Linked DNA regions of Homo sapiens. The protein of the gene in region 1 purifies or fractionates together with the protein of each later gene. This does not show direct contact. Each region holds a gene or a part of one and is shown on either strand. Other genes may lie near its edges.

The links.
Region 2: the proteins of CACHD1 (region 1) and TMEM63C fractionate together in Homo sapiens (co-fractionation; one large-scale study listed by BioGRID). This does not show direct contact.
Region 3: the proteins of CACHD1 (region 1) and SLC26A2 fractionate together in Homo sapiens (co-fractionation; one large-scale study listed by BioGRID). This does not show direct contact.

What each region holds. Positions count from the first base shown.
Region 1 is NC_000001.11:64,679,616-64,683,272, reverse strand, and holds part of CACHD1 (VWFA and cache domain-containing protein 1 isoform 1 precursor), read right to left. Parts: coding exon 3,517-3,657; intron 2,016-3,516; coding exon 1,938-2,015; intron 1,269-1,937; coding exon 1,167-1,268; intron 1-1,166. UniProt on the Homo sapiens protein: May regulate voltage-dependent calcium channels.
Region 2 is NC_000014.9:77,254,641-77,257,396, reverse strand, and holds part of TMEM63C (osmosensitive cation channel TMEM63C), read right to left. Parts: intron 872-2,756; coding exon 671-871; 3' UTR 1-670.
Region 3 is NC_000005.10:149,967,219-149,970,875, reverse strand, and holds part of SLC26A2 (sulfate transporter), read right to left. Parts: intron 1-3,657. UniProt on the Homo sapiens protein: Sulfate transporter which mediates sulfate uptake into chondrocytes in order to maintain adequate sulfation of proteoglycans which is needed for cartilage development.

The DNA.
Region 1 (3,657 bases):
TCTGCTGTGGTTCTCCATAGAAACCTGAAGTTTCTATTTAGTTGGTGGGAATAATGTCATTCAAAGCCCAAATTAACAGTCTCCAATTTATAAAACAGAGCTTTAGCTGCTCTTATTTGCCAAAGGGAGTTTGAAGACCTGGCTGTAGTGTAAATGGTGACGTTGGTTGCTCTGAGGAGTATCTATTTTTGCATTTTTTAGTGTAGATACAGGGAATACAAGGTTTGAGGACTTTTTTTTTCCAGGATAGGTGTGGAAAAAGCTAAGTCAAAAAGGCTTAAATACACTATTTATGTATTTAAAAAAGGACTTGATTCTAGGAGGAAAATACAGATTTCTGGAAAATTAAACAGCTATCTTAAAAAAAAAAAAAGATTTTACAATGGCAGGAAAAACACTACCCACATCTGTTATATTTTTGTGGAACTGTGGCAGTGATGCTTATAGACTGGGATACATCTGCTGTTCTTTGCAACAATGAGCGATATGGACTCTGAGAAGGAGAGAAGCCATGTGGGATGGCCAAGTCTTTGGCAGAGTAGGTGGATTTCATAAGTTACCTAGCACTCGGCGCCTCTTCATGATTTGGCCTTGACCCTTCCTGAGCATCTTACAGGCACTTACACAACTCCATGACTTTGTAAACACTGGTCCTTTGGCCTCTAATATTCTTTGCCCCTACCTTTTCTTTAATCACCCCCTCAAGGCTCAGTGCAAATGTTGCTTCTTGCTTCTTTGGTGAAGCCTTCTCTGAGCTCCCCAGACCATGCCAGAGGTCAGGGCAAGAGAATGCTGGAGGACAGCACAGATTCTTGTCATGCCCCAAGGGGACATGACTGAAAAAGCCCTTAAAGATCCTGCTGTTTGCCAGCCAACACTGGAGAGCGGGACCTAAGAGGATGCTGATTTTATGGAAAAGCAAGTGGGATGGCAAGCAGGCTCCATTTAAACAATATGAATCCTTCTGTATGGAGAAAAACTTGAAAGCAATCTGTGTGCCCAGAGGAGTGCTGAGACATAAGTAAAACTGTCCTCGGGCTCTTATAAACCAGTGGCATGCTGGGGTGTGTCTTTTTGGAAAACCATGTCAAAATAGGGTGTGAGCATCATCCCACAGGAGTACATGAGGTTCCTTGGGTCTTCAAATGCAGGAAGCTAGACCTTACCATGATCACTTTCTGTTCCTGATCGACCCCAGTAGCGGCGCCTTCTTTCTGGACTGTGTGCATGTCGTTCGATGACCGCAGCTATAAACCGAGTGTTGCTGACTGTAGGAAGCCAAGGACAGTTAATGTCACTCTTATGCCAGTATCTCCATTGTTTCAAACACATTTGCTCTGAGAGGGCTCATTTACATGCTGGGAGAATTCTCTTTGGAAAGCCAGAATAAATCATTTTTTAAACAATTCTGGGGATTGGGGTGCTGATTTTAGAACTGGTGCAGTGAGAGGTATTTAATTATATATCTCCAACGTGCATCAGGAAGCTATGGTCTAGTAGCTGAAGGCCAGGGTGTCTTAACACTAATGGAAATCTCTTTTGATAAAGAAAATGCTCTTTTTTCCTCCCTGAGTTGTACATACTAGTTAAGGGATTTTTTAAAAAATGCATACCTGAAACTTCCTTTTCTAAAATACTATGGTTGGAAAATAATGAGCAAGAGAAACAAAGGAAAGGGTGAGCTGTTTTAGGCCAACACACTTAATGCAAAAAAAAAAAAAAAAAAAAAAACACAATAAAATCTTTTGAGATTCTCTAAAACAAAGACCTACACGTACTCCTAACAAAAAAGGATGGAAAAAAACAACTAAAAAAACCCAGCCACCGTGTCAAAGCTTCTTAAATTTTAATACAAGCCAAAAGGATATAAGAAAGAATATTTATTCTGGATTAGCCTCCTGCTGACACATTCTGCAGCAAGGCAGCTGAATACTCACTGATGCCTCTGTCTTCGTGGCTGTCGTCGTCCCTTTCATCTCTGTCATTCTCCAGGTTGGACATACGCACTGACATTTCTACCCATCATTAAAAAGAGAGAAACATGACTATTTAATCAAACAAAATCACCCGCTTTAATACCCTGCTGAGCACTTGTTTGATGGCTGGGTGACAGCATTCCATCAAGAATGAATCCCATCTTAGAAGGGAATGAACTGATGCCCCATGTTTTTTTAAAGGAGGAGGGAGCAGGAATCCAAACAAGAAGAACAAGTAATCAAGAGACATCTGAAATTCATTTCTGAGAAAGGAGGAGAAAAGAAGTTGATTGAGGCCAACAAATCTTTAATCCTCTACTAAAGTACTGAAACAGAAGGAAAGGGATTGAAAAATGACTGACTGTGTTGGTGAAATGGTGCAACAAAAGCCTCCAAAAGGCCAGGCATAAGCTAACACTGGATGACGGTCATCCTCAGTCTAGCTGAATCTCACCAAGGGAAGCACATGGTGATTATCCCTGTTACTAAATCAGGTAACATTACTCCATGATTCCCCTTCAGGCTTGTGGCCATAGTGAAATGCTTTAACATCAACCTGTCATTACAGCTGTTAGAGTGAGCTAAGTGGCCAGGAAGATGAGTTAACTTCACCTCCAAAAAGGTCAGGTCAACACATCCCCGGGGACTGGGGTTTTAGGAAGGATGGAGATGGCCATTAAACAGTTTTGTTCCCTGCAAACAGAGTACAGATACTGCACTTAAACAGAGTATAGATACTGCACGTGGTATTGAGGCCATGATTATAGGTGAATCATTTTGTACTTGGCTTCGATGACTTTTTTTTTTTTCAGATGGAGTCTCACTCTTTCGCCCAGAATGGAATGCAATGGCGCGATCTTGGCTCACTGTAGCTTCCATCTCCTGGGTTCAAGCGATTCTCCTGCCTCAGCCTCCCAAGTAGCTCAGACCACGGGTAGGTGCCACCGCACCGGCTAGTTTTTGTATTTTTAGTAGAGGCGGGGTTTCACCATGTTGGCCAGGCTGGTCTTGAACTCCTGACCTCAAATGATCCACCCACCTCGGCCTCCCAAAGTGCTGGGATTACAGGCATGAGCCACCGCGATTGGCCGACTTATCCTGTTTTAAGAGATGTGATTATTCAAATGTGTGTTTATTCACACTACATAATGGCAGCTGCAATCGAACAGATTATATTCTTGCCATTAGTGATCTGGGGTATCTTTGATTTGCCTGTCTTTTTGGAATTGCAAGGGCAGCACATCTAACAAACAAAATTTCCCACTCAGCATCCCAGCTCCCCTGACTGGCTTATTGCAGAGGCAGGCCACTGGGGGCTAATGCTGGTAAGGAGAGGATCCAGGGATTTTTCCGGGGATCAAAATAGAGCTTGTAGGGTTTAGGCACTGAAGAAGAAAGCAGGCTTTGGGAACTTCCAAAATGACTCCACAGAAGCTGAAAGTATAGCACTGTTCTGACAGTTCCTTAGAGGCTTACACAACCCGCCACTGTCCTTCTAGCCTGGCTGCTGCCTCCCCTGTGGGGTTCATTTTGAGCTCACCTTGGGCAGCAAGAGGAGACATATGCTGATGGCTCCGGCGATGAATCTGGTGGCGGTAGGCATACACCGCCAGGACCAAGACCATGATGCATCCCATGATCCCTCCAGCCACAGGACCCACAGGGGCGCTTTTAATCATGT
Region 2 (2,756 bases), on another chromosome or scaffold:
GCCTCTGCCCTGCTGCTCCTGGGGACATCTGATGAGGGCAGAGGAGCAGGAAGGGGCTGAGTTACCTCTTCTCAGGTCTACGCTTTCAGTTGGCTCTTGCTCTGGTGGGTGCAGAAACTTTCTCTTTACAGATCCCCATGCAGGGAACCCTGTGATGAGGTGGTCCTCCGTGTCCTGTCAATGTGCCCCGTGCACATACCTTTGCCTCCTCAGACTGCAGGGGAGGAATGGGCCGGGGCTGGGAGGAGGAGCAGCAGCAGAAGCTCCTTGGAAGGGCAGCTGATGCAGAGTGGTGATGACCCCACAGAGCCTTCGGCAGCCTCCTTCTGTCTCCTCCCTTAGGAACACCTTCTCCATCTTGGTCCCAGGAAGGGACCCCAGCGTTCAGTCTCTGTGCCGGGGCTCCAGCCACCTCTCTCAAGACATGTGCTTGCCTGTATCCTCCCATCCCTTCCCAGGCTCCTTCAGCACTGCCGAGCACCCCCAGTTCCAGCCGGGCAGCAGGTCAGGACCCCCGTATGGCCCATGGCTGGGGTGGTGGATGTCTCCACTGTGGGCTTCTCAAAGTCTGCAGGAGGTAGTGGGGAGGTCCAGGCCACCCTCCTGCCTCCCCTTGCCAGGCCCTCCCCTGACCCCTCAACAAGTCGCCAGTGGAGGCCTCAGGTCCCGGTCAGTGGTACTGGTTCTGGCCCTCCAGTTCCAGCCCTTCCTGGAACTGGGCCGAGTCTAGCTCCCTCGCAAAGCCCCTCAGACCACTCTCTTCTTCTCCCTCTTCCGGCTGGTTGTTCATGGTGCCATAGGTGTGCCTGGCTGGGGAGGAGGCGGGGGTCAGATTCAACTCCGGTTCTTGCAGCACGGTGGCCACATACAGCTGCTTGGGATAGAGACAGGGGACAGGAGCAAGGTCACGTTGGGGGCAAGGCCCTGGGCACACCCTCTCCCCTCATGCCCCACCCCCATCGCCTCTGTCTCCTCCAGACCTTGGAGCCTGCCTTCTTCCCCAGCAGCCTGGGTCCTGTCTGTCCCACCCACCTAATTGTTCTTGATCATTTGATGAGCATCTAGGTGCTCCCAGGGCTGGTTCAGTGGCAGGACTCCCCACTCCTAGTCCACTGCTCCTTTAGAACATGTCCCATTCACTCTCAGTTCCAAGTCAAGCTGCATCCAGGGGAGGTGACATGAGGCTCCCCTCAGCTGAGGTCTGGAGAGACCCTCTTTCCTGAGCTAGTGCACCTTCTAATACAGCTTCAGCAGCACATTCAGAACTCCCTCGGGATCTGTCACTGGTTTGGCCTGTCCTCAAGATGTGGAACTGCTAGCGGAGACTTTGGTCACATGACCTGTCACACCCAGGAATGGTCCCCATGCCTGGGACGGCAGCAGATAGAAAAACACAGGATGTACTAGGAAGAAGAGCAATTGTCATCCTCTGAAGTGGCTCTTAAACCATCTCCTTACTTAGAAAATAGGTTATTAGGGAATGGAATGAAACCTTTCCCATAGGAGTTTATTTCAGTGAAACCAAACAGCCCTGGTTGAAGGAACGGTTTTCCTACAAAAGAATCTAGACATTTGCGTGGTGCCAAAGTAAGCCATCTAGATGACCTTTTGGTCATAAAGGGGTAAATGTCAACTGAACCATGGAAAAATCCACCTGTCATTCCCCTAATTAGAAGGTCATGACGGCATCATTAATGAATGGGAATTAACAGGATGTTACATCTCTCTGAGTGTAAATTGCAGCACTACCTGTAATGTGTTCTAGCCCCATGTTGAACTTGCATCTATCAAGCCATCAGATCTAACTTCCAGCATTCAGGAGATCATGGAACCTGTCATAAGACATCATGAACAGCCAGAAAAATCCAGGTGGAACATTCTGCAGGACTGCTGGCTTGGTCTCTCCAAGTCATTTAAAAGGCACTGTGCTAAAATAAAAGGGACATGAAAACCTGAGGCACATGTGCTAGATTTGATATTGGGTTGGACAAGCTCTAAAAGATACTTCTGGAACAATTAAGGCAATTTGAATACCGGCTGGGTGTTCAAAGAGATAAAAAATTTATATATATGGAAAAAGATTGTTAACTAAAAATGCAGGTTATAGGCCTGGCGTGGTGGCTCACGCCTGTAATCCCAGCACTTTGGGAGGCCGAGGCGGGTGGATCAGCTGAGGTCAGAAGTTCGAGACCAGCCTGGCCAACATGGTAAAACCCCATCTGTACTAAAAATACAAAAATTAGCCAGGTGTGATGGCATGTGCCTGTAATCCCAGCTACTCGGGAGGCTGAGACAGGAGAATTGCTTTAACCCAGGAGATGGAGGTTGCAGTGAGCCAAGATGGTGCCACTTCACTCCAGCCTGAACAACAGAGCAAGATTCTGTTTCCCCACCCCACAAAAAAAGGTTATAAAACAGTATGTGCAGTACTATTTCATTTTAGCAAAACTATGTAAATCATACATAATTATCTGGAAGAGATACATAGTATATAAATATCTGCAAGAAAATACACTATCAGTGGTCATCTCTGGGTGGTGGGAATATGGACTTTTTATTTTCTTATTTCTGCTTATCCTTTCCCCCTATAATGATGTGCGATGTTCATATAGCCCTGTGGTAATAAGGCAAGATTTAAAAAATAAATCCTAGTCGTGTTTTTTAAAAGCATAGGCTTTAGAGTCAGATGGACCTGGTTCGACCTTTGTCCTGACACTCCCTTGCTTGGTGCCCTGGACTCTATATTGACGGAACTT
Region 3 (3,657 bases), on another chromosome or scaffold:
TCTTTCTTTCCCCTATGCCATGCTCCCATATATAATCCATCAGTAAATCCTGTCTGTTGTGCCTTGAATAATATATTTATCCTCTCCCCACTGCCCAAACTATTTGTAATCCAATCCCTTCTCACTATTGTCCTACCATCCTCTCTCACCTGGAATACTCTAATAGCCTGCAAGATCTGAACACTGCCTCCCTTTTTGCCCTTATTTCCTACTGGCTTTTTTGCAGTTGCTGGAACATGCCAAGTTGATTCCATTCTTAGGGTCACTGTACTTGCTCAAGTTGTCTTTGCCTAGAATAATAATCTCCCAGATCTATACAGGTATGTTCTCATCCTTTGGGTCTCAGCTTTTATTTTTCTTTTTTAGTGACAGGATCTCACTCTGTCACTCAGGTTAGAGTGCAGTGGCATGGTCATAGCTCACTACAGCCTTGAACTCCTAGGCCCAAGCAATCCTCCCACCTCAGCCTCCCAAGTAGCTAGGACTACAGGTACACACCACGATACCTGGCTAATTTGTTTTTATTTCTTTGTAGAGACAGGGTCTTGCTATGTTTCCCAGGCTGGTCTCGAACTCCTGGGCTCAATCAATTCTTCCACTTCTGCCTCCCAAAGTGCTGGGATTACAGGTGTGAGCCACCATGCCTGGCCTCAGTTTATATGTCACCTCCTCACAGAAACCTTCCTTGACCATCCCAACCAAATAAAATAACACCTCCTTCCCAGCATTCCCTATATCCTTATCTGGCTTTATTTTCTTCATAGCACTTCAGACTTCTGAAATTATATTACTTATAAGCAAAACTATTATTTACAGTCTTTCTTGTACTTATTATATTTCCATTATCAAGAACGATGCTTAGCACATACAGTAGAGGTTCAGTAAATTCTTGCTAAAATGAGTAATAACCCAATTTCTACCCAAAATCAGTGGATTAAGACAGAGTTTTAAACAGCATTCTAGGTACCATAACAGAAAGGTTTAGAGTATTCTGAGAGTGGAGAATACACTGCAGGCCAACGTGAAGTAGGAAGCTGCAACGTTAATAGAAAGGGAAAAGGTAACTCAGGCAAGTGAAAGATCACAGTATAGTCCAAGACCCAGGAAAAGGTCACACTAGGTTCCAAGGGTGAAGTTGTAGGAGATAAGGCTGGAGTGAAGGATTAGTTTTTATGCAATTCCAAGAAGTCACGAGTTCATCCTCTAAGCTACAGTTACCAAAGGCCTAACTTCCAAGGCAGGAAAGGGCAGGAGGTTTGCCATTTCAGTGGTACAACTAGGTAAGAGGTGGTGCTTAAAGGACATACACAGACAAATCTAAGATGAAATCTGAGAAGGATCACACAAAAGGAAGGATGATATACAGGAAGATGGAGAAGAAAATGGAAAGATAGGAAGCAGCAAAAAATCTGACTTTGGGTTTTTTAGATTTGAGATTTTTATAATATGTCCAGATGGTGTGTCCAGCAGGCAATTAGAAATGTGGTTCTCAAGTACAGGAGAGAAGCCAAAATTGGAAAAATAAATGGGGCAGAGTGAAAGGTCTACAGTACCTCATTCTCTGCTGAATTCCATTTATATGTTCAATAAACGTTTGTTGAATATGTGCTTTATCTTCCTAACTAGATTAAAATTATTCAAGATGTTCTACACTTTTTGTGTACTATCATAATACCTAGCATAGAATTAGGCACATACAGGAAGTATCTAATAAAGTTTTTGATGGACAGAATGGTTTTTATTTTAAAAAGTTATTTTAACAAAAACTTTTCCAAGAAGAATTAGCTTTGACTTTTGTTGGACAAAAATTTTTGTTTCTTTAAAAGACATTTGAGGCCGGGCACAGTGGCTCACACGTGTAATCCCAGCACTTTGGGAGGCCAAGGCGGGTGAATCGCTTGAGGTCAGGAGTTCGAGACCAGCCTGGGCAACATGGCAAAACCCTGTCTCTACCAAAAATACAAAAATTAGCTGGGTGTGGTGGTGTACACCTGCACAGCTGTAACTCAGCAAGCTGAGGCACAGCTACTCAGCAAGCTGAGGCACAAAGAATCACTTGAACCCAGGAGGTGGAGGTTGCAGTGAACCAAGATCGCGCCACTGCACCCCAGCTGCGGCAACAGACCGAGAGTCCGTCTCAAAAAAAAGACAGTTGAGGCCGGGCACGGTAGCTCACGCCTGTAATCCCAGCACTTTGGGAGGCCGAGGCAGGCGGATCACAAGGTCAGGAGATCAAGACCATCCTGGCTAACATGGTGAAACCCCATCTCTACTAAAAATACAAAAAAAAAAAAAAAATTAGCCAGGCATGGTGGCGGGCGCCTGTAGTCCTAGCTACTCAGGCAGCTGAGGCAAGAGAATGGCGTGAACCCAGGAGGCGGAGCTTGCAGTGAGCCAAGATTGCGCCACTGCACTCCAGCCTGAGTGACAGAGCGAGACTCTGTCTAAAAAATAACATAAATAAAATTAAAAAAAAACAGCTGATACATTTGATACATTGCTGGTAGAAATGTAAAATGGTGCCAACACTGTGAAAAACAGTTTGGTGGTTCCTCAAAAAGTTAAACACAGCACTGCTATATGACCTAGTAATTCCGCTTATACTCAAAGGACTAAAAACTGTAACTCGAACAGATATTTGTATACTAATGTTCATAACAGCACTATTTACAATAGCCAGAAGGTGAAAACAATCCAAGTGTCCATCAACAGATGAACAGATAAAGCATGGTATAACCATAAAATGGAATATTATTTGACTATTAAAAAGGAATTAAGTTCTGATACTCTTCATCTACAACATGGAGGAAACTTAACACCCTTATGTTAAGCAAAAGACAGACACGATGCAAACAAATAAAAAATAAAAAAAAAGAGCTGGATCTAAAAAAAAAAAAAGGACACAAAAGGACAAGTATTGTATGATTCTACCTATACAAAATATCTAGAAAAGGCAAAATGGGCCAGGCAGGGTGGCTCATGCTTATAATCCCAGCACTTTGGGAGGCTGAGGAGGGAGGATTGCTTGAGCCAAGGAGGTCAAGGTTGAAGTGAGCTATGATCATGCCACTGCACTCTAGCCCAGGTGACAGAATAACAACAACAACAACAAAAATATATATATACACAGAGAGAGAGAGAATAGGCATATACATAGAGAAAGAAAATAGAGTTTACTGGGTACTGGGGGAAGTGGTGTTACTGGTTACAGAGTTTCCATTTCAAGTTTTGGAAATAAATAGTAGTAATGGTTACACACCATTGTGCACGTACTTCATGCCACTGCATTGTACACTACATTAATATTAGATGAAGGAGATTTCAGGGACAAAAACTTTACAAAATGCAAACTAATCAGTCCTCAAGTTCATTTCCTGACACCTCCACCAAAAGAAAGAAAGAAAAAAAGTTTATACTAATTTATAGTGACAGAAAGTAAATCAGTGGCTATTTCGGGATAGGAAGTAAGGTGGGGTAGGAGAGAGAGATTACAAAGGGGCATGAGGAGATTTTGGGGATTGATGGATATGTTCACTATCTTGATTGTGGTGACAGTTTTATGTATATATATAGAGAGAGTACCTTTGAAATATGTACAGCTTATTGTATGTCAATTATACTACAATAAAGCTATAAAGTCTAATTCTTATCTGAAGG